Linked DNA regions of Homo sapiens. The protein of the gene in region 1 interacts with the protein of each later gene in a pairwise test. Each region holds a gene or a part of one and is shown on either strand. Other genes may lie near its edges.

What was found.
Region 2: the proteins of TRIM23 (region 1) and EAF2 interact in binary tests that used the Homo sapiens proteins (3 or more experiments, as listed by UniProt).
Region 3: the proteins of TRIM23 (region 1) and MRPL4 interact in binary tests that used the Homo sapiens proteins (3 or more experiments, as listed by UniProt).

The regions. Positions count from the first base shown.
Region 1 is NC_000005.10:65,617,731-65,621,389, reverse strand, and holds part of TRIM23 (E3 ubiquitin-protein ligase TRIM23), read left to right. Parts: intron 1-3,134; coding exon 3,135-3,297; intron 3,298-3,659.
Region 2 is NC_000003.12:121,883,597-121,887,164, forward strand, and holds the end of EAF2 (ELL-associated factor 2), read left to right. Parts: intron 1-2,745; coding exon 2,746-2,792; 3' UTR 2,793-2,930; downstream 2,931-3,568. UniProt on the Homo sapiens protein: Acts as a transcriptional transactivator of TCEA1 elongation activity. Acts as a transcriptional transactivator of ELL and ELL2 elongation activities. Potent inducer of apoptosis in prostatic and non-prostatic cell lines.
Region 3 is NC_000019.10:10,257,853-10,260,682, forward strand, and holds the end of MRPL4 (large ribosomal subunit protein uL4m), read left to right. Parts: intron 1-369; coding exon 370-476; intron 477-560; coding exon 561-670; intron 671-756; coding exon 757-833; coding exon of another isoform or gene 834-886; exon of another isoform or gene 887-1,319; coding exon of another isoform or gene 1,320-1,654; exon of another isoform or gene 1,655-1,764; coding exon 1,765-1,961; 3' UTR 1,962-2,203; downstream 2,204-2,830.

The DNA.
Region 1 (3,659 bases):
TTGCATTTATTTTATATCAAATTCTATTGTGAATTTTTGAGACAGAGCCTCACTCTGTCGCCCAGGCTGGAGGGCAGTGGCACAATCTTGGCTCACTGCAAGCTCCGCCTCTTAGGTTCATACCATTCTCCTGCCTCAGCCTCCCGAGTAGCTGGGACTACAGGTGCCCGCCACCGCGCCTGGCTAATTTTTTGTATTTTTGGTAGAGATGGGATTTCACCACGTTAGCCAGGATGGTCTCAATCTCCTGACCTCGTGATCTGCCCGCCTTGGCCTCCCAAAGTGCTGAGATTACAGGCGTGAGCCACCGCACCCAGCCTATGAATATTTTTTCTATATTTAATTGAATTTTTTTTTTTTGAGGCAGGTTCTCACTCTGTCACCCAGGTGGGAGTGCAATGGCACGATCATGGCTCATAGCAACCTCGACCTCCTGGGCTCAAATGATCCTCCCACCTCAGTTTTTGATTTTTTTTTGTAGAGACAGGGTCTCGCTGTGTTGCCCAGGCTGGTCTTGAACTCCTGGCCTCAAGCAGTCCTCTTGCCTTGGTGTCCCAAAGTGCTGTGATTACAGGTGTGAGCCACAGTGCCTGGCCTAAAGAATTTGATAACGTGAAACTTTCCCCTTTTTAAAAAATGTAGGATAAATTGAAGTATGTGTATATATGAATAATAGACAGAATTATACGTGGATAGCTGTTCCCCAGTTGTTTGCCTTTTTCATGGGGAACCAGTGTTCCAATGTTACTGGTGTCCTATGTATCCTTCCAGGAAGACAATACGCTTATACAACAATACAAAAAAAATTTGCTCTTTCCCCACCTTTATGCAAAAATGAATATATTCTATTATTTTTCTTTTTGTTTTAATCATATGAAATCATTCTGTGTATATATGAAAAACTTCATCTTTCTCACTATCCTATATAGTTTTATAGTATTATGAATGTGCCACAATTTATTTTCCAAGCTGATATTGATGTATATTTACTTTCTTTCCAATTTTTTGCTAATGCAAATGATGCTTTAAGGAGTAACATACAGATTTTGTCACACGTGTCTAGTATGCTTGTAGGATAAATTCCTGCAACTAGAATTACTGAGTTATTTAAATTTGGTAAGTATTGTCAAGTTGCCCTCCATAGAAGCTGTATTGCTCAATAAACATTTCATAGCAATTAGTAATGTATGAGAGTGTCTGCTTTCCCACACCTTCACTAACAAAATGTTACCAACATTTTTGATCTAATCTGAAAAAAGTATTTTGATGTAGCTTTAATTTGCATTTTTCTTTCTTTATTTTTTTGAGACCGAGTGTCATTCTGTCACCTAGGCTGGAGTGCGGTGGCGTGATCTTGGCTCACTGCAACCTCCGCCTCCCAGGCTCAAGCAATTATCCTGCCTCAGCCTCCTGAGTAAACTGGGCTTACAGGCGCCCACCACTATGCCTGGCTAATTTTTTTGTATTTTTAGTAGAGATGGGATTTCACCATGTTGTCCAGGCTGGTCTCGAACTCCTGACCTCAGATGATCCACTCGCCTCGGCCTCCCAAAGTGTTGGGATTACAGGCATGAACCACCATGCCTAGCTTTAATTTGCATTTTTCTTATTATGAGTTAGATTGAACATCTTTTCACGTAAAGAATTTTCATCTTCTTTTCTCTGAACAATGTTATGTTTCTTATTTTTATTCATTTTTATCTTCCCAAACCCTTATTTACATTGAAGGACTAAATTTAAATTTCTTTTGAACCATGATAAGATGCAAAGCAATTATGAATTATCACTGTATGGTGAAAGATATTTGCATCTCAAGCACTAAGTCCAAGTTAATTGTAGAGTTAGGTTTAAAATCATAGTAGATTTAGTCTGATTTCTGCCTTGGGTTTTCTGTTTTTTACCTCGTGTTGTGTGTTTGATGATGGTGAGCTTAATTGTTTTTAAATTATTTTACTGGACTTTATGTAAGCAGTAGGTACTTGGTATTTAAAATACCCAGTTCCTGAGGGTTCTTTGGTCCAACAGGGAAAGACGGGCTAAAAGACCAAGGTATTAAAGTGTTTTGGGTGTTACGGTAGACGCTTATACAGAGTACATCGGGGCCCAAAGGACAAGTATAGTCCTTTCCTCAGTGTTAGCATGAAGAGACATGAAACAGTTTCTCATGTTCTGAGAACTATAAGCTGTTGGATATAGTTGGAGCATAGGGTCAGAAGAGTATGGCAGTGAAGCAATAGGACAGGGACCAGATTGTAGCAGGTCTTGAATGACAGGAGTTTGAGGTATGATTGAATAGTACAGTGTGGGTATTTTTAAAAAATTAATGCAAGGTATGAAACACTACAAATATACTTAGAAATAAGTGCTGAAAATGCTTTATTGCTATAAATACAATTTGTTGACTATTTGTAAAACATAAACTTATGGACTTGAGAATCAGAATATGCTGATAAATGGCCTTTCTTTTGACTGACTGTGTAGCCTTGTGCAAGTCATGTGTCTGTAACTAGAGCTAGAAAGACAAACTAGTTTCTAATTCAGAGCTATATTTATTGATAGAGAACAGGAATTGAAATTTAAGATGATTGCTTTTTTTGCCTTTGTATTATTTAATGTACATTAGATAGTAGAAGATACTTGAAAGTTACTTGCAGTCTTTTCTTAACAAGTTCTTTATCATTTGCAGGGGTAATTGTTATCTCAGTACATATTTTAGATTATTTTTGTTGAAATTAATGATAGTTTATTTGTGTTGAAATTAATGATGGGTTAGGTAGTTGCAGAGAAATTGCTTAAGAACCCACCTTCAGTAGAATTACATATTGTTTGTACAGATTCAGATGTAATGACTGAAATCATAATTTTCAAAAGATAACAAAGATGTTAATTTACAGCATCTTTGCCCCAACACTTAGTATTTCAAAGATATTTCATTATGATATAATTTTGACAGGGTCGGTCAAATGGAATGACTTAAAAGTGATTCAAGATTTTACAACCTACATAGTTTTTTTTTCATAGAGGAATAAAGTAACAATGTTGATTCAATATATTAGGTGAATTTTCTTATATACCTAAAATATGTATGCTTTTAAAATTGTTTAAAGAGCACATCCTTCCTTTTCAAATATTAGGTGCTAGAGTGTGGAGTTTGTGAAGATGTCTTTTCTTTGCAAGGAGACAAAGTTCCCCGTCTTTTGCTTTGTGGCCATACCGTCTGTCATGACTGTCTCACTCGCCTACCTCTTCATGGAAGAGCAATCCGTTGCCCATTTGATCGACAAGTAACAGACCTAGGTAGGAAAAGTATTTGTATGGATTTAAGATTGAAAATTGTTCATGTAATGCAAATGTCATAGGAAACAATGTCCTTCCACTTGATTTTTAGAATGATAAAATTCCCAGAAAGTTTCAGAAAGCCTAAGTTTCTATTAAGGTCAATAATCTTCAAGCTATAAACTATCTCACTCTTAGTTACTAATTTTATTTTATCTTCTGAGATGTTTATATTCAATACTTATCTGTAAAGAGCTTTAAGACACCTGAGAAAAACGTGCTACCCTGATTCAAATAAATAAGAATGTGTATCACAGAGTGAATCATTTGCCTGAAGCCATAAACCCAATAGAACAATGTTTTCTTTACAAATAAATAAGCCA
Region 2 (3,568 bases), on another chromosome or scaffold:
CAAGACTGGTTCATCCATTGCAAGACATTTAGCATTCCTAAACTCCCCTCCCACTAAATGCTATTAGCAATCTACAGCCAACAGGACAAGCAACCCCTCATGTAAATTTCTGTATCATCCCCTGGGGGGCAGTACTACTCTCAGTGATAACTATTGATTTAAATGCCTGAATATATTTCTATGGGTAAACTCTCTTTTTCTGAGTCATAATTACAGCTATGATTGAAAACATATTTTCTTTACTAAGCAACTCATAATCAAAGGCTAATCTTATATCTTCAAAACTTGACTGAATATTTCCTAACCTTGACAGCATAAAGTCTAGAAAGGCAAAATGGAACTCTGAGTACGTTTGGGTTTGTGTCGCTTGAAAAACTCATATTACAGGCATCATATAACATTCTTATGTCATATAATAGTTCTGTAAGTGGAAACTTAATCCTTGAAAATTATGAAATGCATCAGGCAAGGTGGCTCATGCCTGTAATCTCAGCACTTTGGGAGGCCAAGGCAGGTGATTCACCTGAGATCAGGAGTTCGAGACCAGCCTGGCCAACATGGTGAAACCCTGACTCTACTAAAAATACAAAAAAATTAGCCAGGCATGGTGGCGCATGCCTGTAATCCCAGCTACTCGGGAGGCTGAGGCAGGAGAATCACTTGAACCAGGGAGGCAGAGGGTGCAGTGAGCTGAGATAGCGCCACTGTGCTCTAGCCTGGGTGACAAGAGTGAAACTCCATCTCAAAAAAAAAAAAAAAAAGAAATGAAAGTGATGAGATGGTCATGAGAACCAGATGCACAGAAGAAGTTTTAGCAGATTTTCTTATTTATTTATTTATTTTTTTTTTTGAGAAGGAGTTTCACTCTGTCGCCAGGCTGGAGTGCAGTGGCGTGATCTCGGCTTACTGCAACCTCCACCTCCTAGGTTCAAGTGATTCTCCTGCCTCAGCCTCCCGAGTAGCTGGGACTACAGGCATGTGCCACCATGCCCAGCTAATTTTGTATTTTTAGTAGAGACGGGGTTTCACCATGTTGGCCAGGATGGTCTCAATCTCTTGACCTCATGATCCGCCCACCTCAGCCTCCCGAAGTGCTGGGATTACAGGCGTGAGCCACCGCGTGCCCGACCTCGCAGATTTCTTTATCAAATGATGTTATCAGTTCTGCAGTTCATGCAAAAGACTGAAACATCTTATAATTTATACGTGGCCTAAAAACTATTCTTCTTAAATTAGGTATTGATTTCAAAACATGCCAGCTTTTTTGATTGCGGATTAGTTAAAAAATATAAGAATTTTTTTAACCATTGTAATTTACTACCTAAGTGATTTCATTCAGTCTGTTTGCTTCAGATAAACCTGTACGATCAATGACTCTCAAATCTTTATTTCTAGGTCCAGCCTCTACCTTTAGCTCCAGACTTGTATATCCAACTGCCAGTACCATATATATTTGGGTATTTACTAGGTATCTCAAATTTACCACATGAAAATTGAACTTGTGATTTTTCTTCTACAACCATGTTCCTCTGGTGTTTCTCATCTCAGTAAATGATAACTCAGTAAATGATTTATCCAGTTGTTCACAACAAAAACCTTGGGGTCATTCTTCACTTCTTTCTCTTGTACCCTAAATTCAATGTTTTAATTAGTCCTATAAACTCTGTCTTCAAAGTACATTATGAATCTGACCACTTAGCCTCACCTCCCCCAGACTACCTGAGTCAAAGCCAACATTATTTCTTACATGAGAGACTGCATTAGACTTACAACTTCTCTCTTGTTTCTGTGTTTCTTCCACACCATTATGGCGTATTTACTGATCTACAACCGGTTTTAAGTTAGTTGCCTGCTTAAAATTTTCTCATGAATTCTCATTACATTTTCAAACAAAATCCAAAGTTTTTACCATGACCTTGTGGATATCTTTCTGACCTCATTTACTACTGTTATCTTCCTTATTCATTCCATTCCACCCACAGTGGCCTTCTTGCAAGTCAGAGAATGCAACAAATATGCTCCTGCCTTGGGGCATTTGCACTTCTGTTCTTTTGGCCTGGTCACTTCACCTCCACATTCTCCATTTTTTATGACTTTCTTCCTATATTTGGATCTCTGTTCAAATGTCACCCCTCAAAAAGGCCTTCAAAACTACCCTATTTAAAATAGCACCTGCCACTGCCATCTCCATACCCATTTTCATTTTTCCATAGCACTTATCCCTACTTGGCATTATGTTATATATTTGTTTATTTGTTTACTGTCTGTCTCCCCCACTGGACTGTAAGCTCCATGACTGTAAGTACATAGATGAATTACAAAATGAATCAATGGTGAATTATCCTTGACATATATTATTTAATGATTTTGACTCCATTTTAAGTAAAAAAAAAATAACATTTTTTTCACTCTTCAAAGTGATATAGTTTAATCTTCTAAACTACATTTTTCTCATTTCCCGATTTAATTAAATCAGTGATATAAAAAAAAGAGTGATGGGGATATGTGAAAGAAGACTAAAATAGATGCCAGGAAATACTAAAACTGCTGAAGTTTAGTGGTATATTTTTTCTTTACACACAGTATTATTTGAGTTACTAATTGTGTCACTGAATTACAGAATAAGCAAAATACTAGGTAAACAGAATCACGCTTGGGGGCTATATTTTGTGTAAAATTTGTGTTATGCAAAAATAATATTAAATATTTAATTACTACAGTTTTGTTATTTCTTTCTTATTTTAGGAAATGATTTGCAGCTGAGTGAATCAGGAAGTGACAGTGATGACTGAAGAAATATTTAGCTATAAATAAAAATTTATACAGCATGTATAATTTATTTTGTATTAACAATAAAAATTCCTAAGACTGAGGGAAATATGTCTTAACTTTTGATGATAAAAGAAATTAAATTTGATTCAGAAATTTCAGTTGATGTTATGTATTTGTTTTTTAGACAGTTTATTTATATAAATTTATTTATTGTTTTTTAGACAGTTTATATATAAATATATATTATATATGAAGATATATATATATAATTAAATACAGCAGTTTTAGGTTCATAGCAAAGTTGAAGTTTTAGGTTCATAACAAAGTTGAGAAGGTCTTATTTCTTCTCTCCTCATTATCAATATCCCACACCAGAGTGGCACATTTGCTAAAATAGATGAGCCTACATTGATAGATCATTATTACACTAAGTCCATAGTTTACATTAGGGTTCAGTCTTGATGTTGTGCATTCTATGGATTTTTGACAAATGTGTATTCATCATTTTAGTAACATTCGGAATAGTATCACTGCCCTAAAAATCCTTTGTTCTGCCTATTCATTCGTCTTTTCCCTTTAACTCCCAGCAACTACTAATCTTACTGTCTCCATAGTTTTGCATTTTCCAGAATGTCATGTAGTTGGAATCATACAGAACATAGCCTTTTCAGATTAGTTTCTTTCACTTAATAATATGCATTTAAGTGCCTCCATGTCTTTCATGGTTTGATAGCCCATTTTTTTTTAAGTTTGAATACTCTCCTATTGTCTGAATGTATCACAGTTTGTTTATCAA
Region 3 (2,830 bases), on another chromosome or scaffold:
TTGTTTGCTTTTGAGACAAGATCTCGCTCTGTTGCCCAGGCTGTAGTGCAGTGGTGCAATCATAGCTCACTGCAGCCTTGAGCTCCTGGGCTCAAGTGATCCTCCATCCTCAGCCTCCCAAAATGCTGGTGTGAGCCACCTTCGCCAGCCCTGTCTCAGAGTGTGACAGCTGGGAAAACTGAAGCCCAGTGAAGCAAAGTCACTGGTCCCATGTTGTCCCTGATCCAGCCTCCCCTGAGGCCCCACCCTCTCTGCCTTGTTCCTGGCAGCGCCCCCTCTCTCGTCACCCCATGCCAGCCACTGCAGCAGATTGCTGACCTCCAGGCTCTGCAGTGGCCCCTACCTGCTCACATGCCTCTGTCCCCGCAGGAGGTGTTGCCCATGGCCCCCGGGGCCCCACAAGTTACTACTACATGCTGCCCATGAAGGTGCGGGCGCTGGGTCTCAAAGTGGCACTGACCGTCAAGCTGGCCCAGGTACAGCCATGGGGGGGCCCAGACAGCTGCTAGAGGTGGGGCTGCTCTGGACCCAGGGTTCAAACCATCCTTTCCTTCCACCAGGACGACCTGCACATCATGGACTCCCTAGAGCTGCCCACCGGAGACCCACAGTACCTGACAGAGCTGGCGCACTACCGCCGCTGGGGGGACTCCGTACTCCTCGTGGACTTGTGAGGGCACAGGGCAGAGCAGGGGCAGGGGGCCCTGAGCTCCGTACTCTGAGGGTTCAACCCCCACTCCCTGGCCTCTCTTACAGAACACACGAGGAGATGCCACAGAGCATCGTGGAGGCCACCTCTAGGCTTAAGACCTTCAACTTGATCCCGGCTGTTGGTGAGCAAAGAGCCCAGGCCCCTAGAGTGCGCATGTGCAGGCTCCGCTGTTAGAATCACAGCGGTTCAAATCCGGCATCTGGTCGCTGAGTGGCCTCAGGCAGTGACCACGCTCCCGGACCCAACCTTCAGCTTGCCCAAAGCAATAATCTTTCCTAAAGAAGTGCTTGGCTGGGGATGGTGGCTCACGCTTGTAATCCCAGTACTTTGGGAGGCCAAGGCAGTCTGGGCAATATAGTGAGGCTCCCATCTGTACTAAAAATAAAAAAGTTAGGCGTGGCGATGTGCACCTGTAGTCCCAGCTACTCGGGGGCTGAGCCAGGCGGATAGCTTGAGCTCAGGGGGCCAAGGCTGCAGTGAGTCATGATCGCACCACTGCACCCAAACCTGGGGAGAGAGCTAGACTCTTGTCTCAAAAAAAAAAAAAAAAAAAAAAAAAAAGCTCCAAAGTCACCTCTGTCAAAGCCACAGTCTGTTCCTTCCACAGCCACAAGATGGCGACATGAGCCTAAGTCAAGTCCTGTCCCTCAACCCACGCCCCTCGCTGGCTTCCCCACCTCTCTCAGGATGAAAGCCCAAGTCATCAGGGTGGCACGTCAGGCCCTGCACGATGTGCCCCGTCACCTCCCTGCCCTCCCGTCATTTGCCCTGGGTCTCCCCCACCAGAATGGGAGCCAGGAGTCCCAGCCAGGCACAGGACCGAGCCTGGCTCTCGGTCAGCAGGTGATGAGCTGGGAGCAGCTCCTTGGCCAGAGGCTTACAGGCAACAAGCGGCCAGGCAGGGTCTGGCCCCGGGCTGCTGGGCTCACAAAGTCACACTAGACCACAGTGACGATCTCTGTAAGCACAAAGGGACTCCGATGTGGGTGGGGTGAGGAGAGAGGCAGCCCCGGCCTGACCGGCCCCCCGCCCCGCCCCCACCCCGCCCCCAGGCCTAAATGTGCACAGCATGCTCAAGCACCAGACGCTGGTCCTGACGCTGCCCACCGTCGCCTTCCTGGAGGACAAGCTGCTCTGGCAGGACTCACGTTACAGACCCCTCTACCCCTTCAGCCTGCCCTACAGCGACTTCCCCCGACCCCTACCCCACGCTACCCAGGGCCCAGCGGCCACCCCGTACCACTGTTGATGTGAAGCACCTCTTCTGAGCCAGGCCGAGCCCCTGGCCGACTTGGGAGCCTCAGGCCCACGCCCACCCTTCGAGGAAGGTGTCACCTGGACCCCTTCATTCCACGGAGGAAGCTGAGGCCACAGGGAGCGGCCATCGCCATTGGGAAGGGGCGACTCCACGGAAAGCCCAGACGGGCTTCTGCATCCATTCCCTCTTTTTGTTTTTAAAATAAATTGTATTTTTGAATCAAGGAGGATAAAGATAACTTCTCAGTGTCATTTTTGATAATTGCATTGAGAACGATGAGCTCCTTCCCAGGTTCTGGGCACTGTTGGGGATCCGCCGTCTCAAGAGGCTCACGGTCTGGTTTAGGGGAACCCCAGGGCTGTTTGTGGAAATTACAAGAATTCACTTACCCGGTGAGTCAGACTCCAGGAGCTCACAGGTGCGTGGGCGCTGGCACTTCCTAGGAGCTGACTCCTGCCACATCCCTCTCCTGAGCACTGCTGCCAGCCATTCTCACCCCTGAGAGGGTTTGCAGTCCTGTCTGCGACAGTACTTCATGCAGCCTGAGAGTGTGTGCTTGATTGTACAAGTAGATGTTGTGTAAACCTGAGTTTTCAGAGTGACTTCCTGTAAGCACAGTCAGAAAAGTAAATGTCTCTCTGTAAGTGAGCAGATAAGCACATGCTTAAAAACACCAGCTGGGCGTGGTGACTCGCACCTGTAACCCTAGCACTTTGGGAGGTCAAGGTGGAAGGATCGTTTGAGCTCAGAGCTTCCAGACCAGCCTGGGCAACATGGTGAAACCCCATCTCTGCAAAAAATATAAAAATTAAGTGGGCGTGTTGGCGTCCACCTGTGGTCCCAGCTACTTGGGAGGCTGA